2 linked regions of the Homo sapiens genome follow. The protein of the gene in region 2 purifies or fractionates together with the protein of the main gene of each other region. This does not show direct contact. Each region holds a gene or a part of one and is shown on either strand. Other genes may lie near its edges. The genes, in order: TUBGCP4 and SLC38A4.

The links.
Region 1: the proteins of SLC38A4 (region 2) and TUBGCP4 purify together in Homo sapiens (affinity purification with mass spectrometry; one large-scale study listed by BioGRID and IntAct). This does not show direct contact.

Annotation. Positions count from the first base shown.
Region 1 is NC_000015.10:43,377,438-43,381,269, reverse strand, and holds part of TUBGCP4 (gamma-tubulin complex component 4), read right to left. Parts: intron 3,424-3,832; coding exon 3,367-3,423; intron 1,187-3,366; coding exon 1,107-1,186; intron 1-1,106. UniProt on the Homo sapiens protein: Component of the gamma-tubulin ring complex (gTuRC) which mediates microtubule nucleation.
Region 2 is NC_000012.12:46,764,136-46,767,204, forward strand, and holds the end of SLC38A4 (sodium-coupled neutral amino acid transporter 4), read right to left. Parts: intron 2,668-3,069; coding exon 2,566-2,667; 3' UTR 626-2,565; downstream 1-625. UniProt on the Homo sapiens protein: Symporter that cotransports neutral amino acids and sodium ions from the extraccellular to the intracellular side of the cell membrane. The transport is electrogenic, pH dependent and partially tolerates substitution of Na(+) by Li(+).

The sequences.
Region 1 (3,832 bases), on a different chromosome or scaffold from region 2:
AAGTTTGGTCCCTGCAAACACAGAACAAACATGTATATATAGTATCATCTACATTAGATTTTATATTCTATACACAAAAGTATAATAGAGAATTAAGTCCCTAAGGAATGTTCTGGAGGATTTACTCATGCAGTGGTTAGAGTGGAGATTAAGAGTTGTGAGTGGCCGGGTGCGGTGGCTCACACCTGTAATCTCAACACTTTGGGAGGCCAAGATGTGAATATCGGTTGAGCCTAGGAGTTCGAGACCAGCCTGGGCAACATAGCAAAGCCTTCTCTCTACAAAAAATTAAAATAAAATAAGAAAAAAAGAACAAAACAGAGTTGTGAGTGGCCTCAGGGATCATCTATTATAATTTTTCAATGAATGTCACAGTTTTTTTAAAATAAGGAAAATGGATAAATGGAAAGCTCAAACAGGCAGTCTTTGATTATACTCTACATGTTTTCATATTGTTGTAATCACAAGATAAATACAATTTTGTATCATTTGTCAGTACATATTTATATAAAATAGTTTACATGTTATAGTACCTACACTTTTAGTGGCTTTATAGTCTATCAAGTGAATATATCATCATTTAAATTTTTTTCTACTGTTGGTAATTTTCTAATTTCCTGATATAGTAGACAACATTGCAATGAACACGTTTGTGCATATAGTTATTTTCTTCTATTAAATAGTTTTGTTAGGATAAAATTCCCAAGAGTGGCATTATGGGATTATAAAGCATAAACATTTTTAAGGACCTTCAATTTGAAAATACCAGCTACTCAAATACACATGTTTAGACACAGCAAGCAACATCTGGCACATGTAATGGAATTCCTGCAAGGATAACAGGATCTAAACATTTAAAAAGATTGCCTCAAGGTCATCCAGGCACCTAAATCCTGGCTTTGTCACTCAACACTCTATAGCCCTTTTTGCAAGGCCTGAGCCATAATAAAGGTTACATGGGCTCCTCTGCTCATGGAGCTTTTTCTATCCTGGTTATAACCTTCCCAAGAGGGAAACCTGAAATGACCTGAAAATAAAACATGTGAGAAGTCAAATAATTTGACCACCCACCTCCACCACCAATTCCCAGTTAAGCCATGACTTACTTTTCCAGTGCACTTCGAACAGGAGGCAACCCCCCACAGCTGTGTTTGTAGACTGTTTCCAGGATTTGACAACCATGAATCTGTGGAAAATACGGCCTTGTCAAACTGGATTCCATTCTAAGAGTCCATGCAAGACACATTCTTATTCCATATTCAACCAAGAGGGCACAATCTAGGAGAGACTGGGGATAAACTTTCTCCTAAGATTTACACATAGTGGTTCTCAAAGAGGGACCTCTCTCCCATCAGCAGCATGACCTGGAGACTCATCAGACATGCAAACTCTTGGTTAGAACCCAGCACTCAGTGTTTCCACAAGCCCTCCAGGTGATTCTAATGCACAGTAAAGTGTGAGAACCACTGCACTTAAAGCAACCAGAATCATTTAGAGTTGGAACACCAAAGCCAAGGAAAGCTTTTTATTTCAAGTTAAGGCCCAATTCAGTCTACTTCTAAGGTATATACTTTTTCAAAAATCCTCTGCCTCTATGTTCTTCAGACTTTTTTTTTTTTTTTTTTTTTTGAGACGGAGTCTTGCTCTGTCGCCCACGCTGGAGTGCAGTGGTGCAATCTTGGCTCACTACAAGCTCTGCCTCCTGGGTTCACACCATTCTCCTGCCTCAGCCTCCCGAGTAGTGCGACACAGGCACCCGCCACCACGCCTGGCTAATTTTTTTTGTATTTTTAGTAGAGACAGGGTTTCACTGTGTTAGCCAGGATGGACTCAATCTCCTGACCTCGTGGTCCGCCCGCCTCGGCCTCCCGAAGTGCTGGGATTACAGGCGTGAGCCACCATGCCCGGTCCCCAGACTTTTATTTTTACCACTTTGAGGTATAATTTACAATGAAATTCACCCATTTTAAGCATACTAATAAACAATTTTTAGTAAATTTCAAACACTGGGCAACCATTACCACAATCCAGTTTTATAACATTTCCACTACTCCAAAAAGCGCCTTTGTGCCTGTCTGCAATCAATCTCCATTCTCAACCCAAACCTAGAATTTTGACCACCTGATTTTAAAAACTCTGAAGAGCCTTGGTACACTAGTTTCTCTACCACTATTCTGGCAGGGAGGAAGATTCAGCCATCTGCAATCCCCCTATTTTCCACTCTCCTTCCTATAGCCAGCGGAAGTTGAAGGCCAACTGAGACGTGCAGCTAGGCCTGGCTCCCTTATGCTGTCCTCATTAACTCTATTTGCCTAGAATGTCTCCTTTTATTTTGGGAGATAGTTTAATCTAGTGGTTAAGAGCACACTCTTTGGAGCCAGATAGAGCTGGGATATAAACCCATTTACTACTATCTGTGTGACACTGGGCACACCCCTTAACCAACTTAGCCCTTTAGTGGATTGTGTGTGATAATGTATTTAAAGCACTTAGCACAGTGCCTAGTACACAGCCAGTGACAGTAAAAGCTGGATGTTGTTATTTGATGAGGACAATCAGCTTTGAAGGGCCAATGAGCACCCACCACTGGCTTTGCTGGCACAGCATGAACATAGCAGAGCACTGTTTCTACACTTACACAGTTAAAAATGATGCAGCAATGTGGCAGATTAACTGGTTTACTAGTTACATTAATGAAAATGAACACCCCTAATAAGCTAAGGCACAAATAAAGAGCTTAAAAAAAATGACGACTTGAGCTAAAGATGTTTAATCCATTTGTCCACTTGGTCCAATTGTGGACCAATTCAATAGGACAGCAGATTCTTCTAATATGAAATCTCAAAGCATTTATTCCTCAGACTTATTAACTCTGCCCAGAAAGACATTCTCCTAACTTCTCAATACACCTGATAAAAACTTGTGATAAGAATAGGCATATTTATTAAACATCTGGCTTTCACTCACTGATCTCAAAATTCTCAGAAAACTGCCAGCACACTAACCATAAACCTATTACCTTCTTCCTAAGAATTAACTTTCTGCTTCACACCCAACAGTTCTAAAACCTTACTGCAGGTTCCTCTCACCTGCAAACATCCACAGCACTTTTTTTCTTACCCCAACAACATTCTTGGGAACATCTATGAACATTTCCTCTACCTTCTGGACCAGGAGGTGTTTAAAGGCAGAGTCATACTTTTGCATTCCTGACACTTAACATGATAACCAAGCAGATATTGTTAAATGAATGAATAAATAAAAACTACTAAAAACTAGGGTCTTCGAAAAATAATGTAAAGCAAAATTAATTAGTAATATTCCCTCAGTGCTTAGCAAAGCAAAAGGAATAAGGAAAGTTCTCACCTTTTGACTTTTAATTTGTTCTACTACAACCATCACAGAGGGAAAAAGAAGCTGGAACTGCAAAGTAGAGAATAATTAGAAGGGTATGTAATCAAATGTAAGGGAAAAAAAATCAACTTGGGAAATGCTTTTGTTTCTAAATAGTTCAACTTAAGATAAAATGGCAATACCACAGAACAGTCAAGATCCAGCATCCTAAGGCAATTTGATGTGGAGGTTCGCTGCAGATAGGAAGAGGATGGCAGAGAGAGGCAGTTTCTTTTTTTTCTTTTTTCTTTTTTTTTTTTTTTTTGAGACAGGGTCTCACTCTGTCACCCAGGCTGGAGTATAGTGGTAGGATCCCAGCTCACTGCAACCTCCACCCCTGGATTCAGAACGTTAGCCTCCCAAGTAGCTGGGACTACAGGTGCACGCCACCACAACCGACTAATTTTTGTATGTTTAGTAGAGACAGGGTTTCACCATT
Region 2 (3,069 bases):
GCAGAAATGAAAATCACAATGAGTTACCATTTCAGACCCACTAGAAAGGCTAAAATGCAAAAGACAACACCAAATGTTGGCAGGGCTGTGGAGTCAGTGGAAGTTGTAGGTAGTACGGGTGGAAATGAAAATGGTAGAAACACTGTGGAAAACTATGTGGAAGTTTCTTATAAAGTTAAGCATATACTTACCCTGTGATCCGTCAATCCCCCTAATCGTTCATTCATAATCAATCCTTAGCACTCACATGTTTTCCCTGCCCCCATATTTTCTCTGCTCTTTATTTTACTATTCTCAGGTTTCTTCTATTCTCTCATTTTCTATCTTCAATGGATTCTTTCAAACTAACCATAAAAGACTCATTTCTTCCACATTCATTCTAGGTGGTATATATGTGATGCCAAAATTATAATCATCATAATAATTTAGGATTAAATATCTATTTTGCCAAAATAAGATGGCAATTATTTTCAGGATGATGGCTATAGATGTTAGTTATGTGTCAAAGGTAACAATGAAAATGGAACATAAACCAATATAAGAAAGACAGTATTTGGATTTTAAATTTTGTTTCATGGACAAATAACACAACATTCTTTAACAATAGATCAAAAATCACATCATAGTCATTTGAAAAGTTCATTTATTATATACCAATATACACTTTCTGTAATAAAAAAGAAGCCTCCCAATACATTGAGCCATCTTATAAATGAAATAAGAAAATAAAATTTTCATCTGTTTACAAATGGGGTTAAATTAATCAGCACAAGCTATCATATGTATGTCTGCCCTGCAGTATATATGAATTTTAATCCTGGTTATGAAGAAAAAAATGGTGCTTTATTATTTGGCACTATAGGATGCTCTTGAACATTCAGAAGATACCTTTTTCCACTTTTTATTTTTGTATACTTTTTAGATGAGTGAAAATGTAAATATATCCTAAAGATGCTATTTGGCAGATTTTTTTCAAATAATAGTAGCTCAAAAGTACGTGTATGATACTTGTACTTCATAATTGGCTTTACTAAAATATAAAATACACAAGTGATCTTACTATGATTTGAAAAAAAGGTAGTGAACTCCAGAAGTTTTAGGCTGTGAGTAGGAATTTTTAAATCCATTTTATGTAAGTTTGTTATAGAAGTGAGCAAGAATGATCGTGTGCATTTCTTCGTAGTGTTAGCACTTATACTTTTACAGAGAACCACTCAACACTGTATTAAATGGCCAATGAATGTCAGCAAACACCTGTGTGAGCTAAACTGAACTAAATCCTATTTTAGATATGCTAAATTAAAAGAACAACTTTAGTATGATAAAAATTTGCAAAAAGAAACTTATTTTCTTGTAGATCATCCTATTATTGTAAATATTGAAGAAGAGCATTGCCAAACTATATATAACTTAGGTTTCAAATTTAAATTATCCCCAGACATTTGTAGACAGATACATATGAATGGATTTTCGAGCCCACCAACTTAATTCCCTGCCCCCACCCCCAATAATATAAATGCTTTGACTGTGAAGAAAGAAAACTACACATGTAAAAAATAAAAATCAAATGTACCTTACATTAACATTCTGATGACTACAGAATAAGATTATATACATAAACATATAGCAAATCACAGTTTCCTGCACTGAATGTTTATCAAATAAAAATGTATCAAACAATACTGGGTAGTGTATCTCCACGATTGTGGTCTTCTAAAAATTCTGAATGAGGATGGAAGACGAGAGGGAGAGCATTGTTCAATGACAAAAGTATGACAAGAGGATTTAGGAATAACATGAAAAAGCAGATGCTTTCTAGAACAGGCAGTTTAGCTATAAGCATTATTTTTGTTGTTGCTCTATGATTGAAATAAAGCCCCTCTCTATATTTAGTGTTTTAACATTTAAATATAGATGTTTTAACATTTACAAAAATCTATTGAATATAGAAGTCACAACTCAATGTCACAAACAGGGTGGGCAAAATATTATTTTGCTGTTGACAATAAGATGCTCTAGACTGGTGTTTGACCATTCATGTACCTTACAGAAACAGAAACAGTTCCTAAGACATGCCTTTTGCCTCTGTTAGTAAACAGACCAGAGACTTTGGTGCAAGACTGAGAGAAGACATTAAATGGTGATAGCTTTGCCACCAGGGCATTTTTGTTTGATGTTCTGAGAATGCAAATGTTTGGTACTTTTTTAGGGGGTGCAGGATGAGGAGACGGCAGGGGAAAGAGTACTATCTGATGATTGTTACATGCAGTTACCCTTATTCTGCTCGTAAAGCAGCAAAAATACACCTTCATCATCTCACACTGCTCTAGCAAAACCTGGGTAGAAATGTGCACCACAGGTTTTATTTTAAACACATACACAACCATCCTTGACAAAAACAGTGATTTTCCTCTTCTGCAGGTGCCTGGTGATATTACTGGTAAACGTCTTTGGAATCTTCCTGTTATTTCCTATGAATAACATTCCAATCAAGATAATTCAAATATCTTTTGGAGTATAACTTGTAACCATTTCCAATAGAAAAAGAAAGTATTTTTCCTTGTGTTAGTGATGCTTGGAATTTGGAGGATCATAAATCCAGTCAATTATAATGAGTGCCATGCTTCCAATCATGAAGAATATTCCAACCACAAGGAAAATTAAAGCCTGTAATTCAGAGAGACTCTGTTAGGAGCACAGAAACCATACTTAGTACAATTTGTTTTTTAGTTGTTTACATAATATGGCAATCTGATCTATATATTGAGCCATATTATTCTTAATATCTCAGATGCCCAGGCCTAACCTATCAGTCAATTTAGAATCCTAGTTGAAGAAAGAAGAGGAATACAGTGGAGAGATACAACCTACAGGTTCAACAATGGAGTAATAGTTAATTGATTTAGTACACCAAGATGATGGAATACCCTGTGATTATTAAAAATCAAGGGACAGAAAAAGATTCAATAATCTAGAGAATGCTTACAATCTTTTAGGTGAAAAAGAGCAGGTTAAAAAAGAATAGCATATATGATATGATTCTAATTTTATAAAGCAAACAAAACCAAA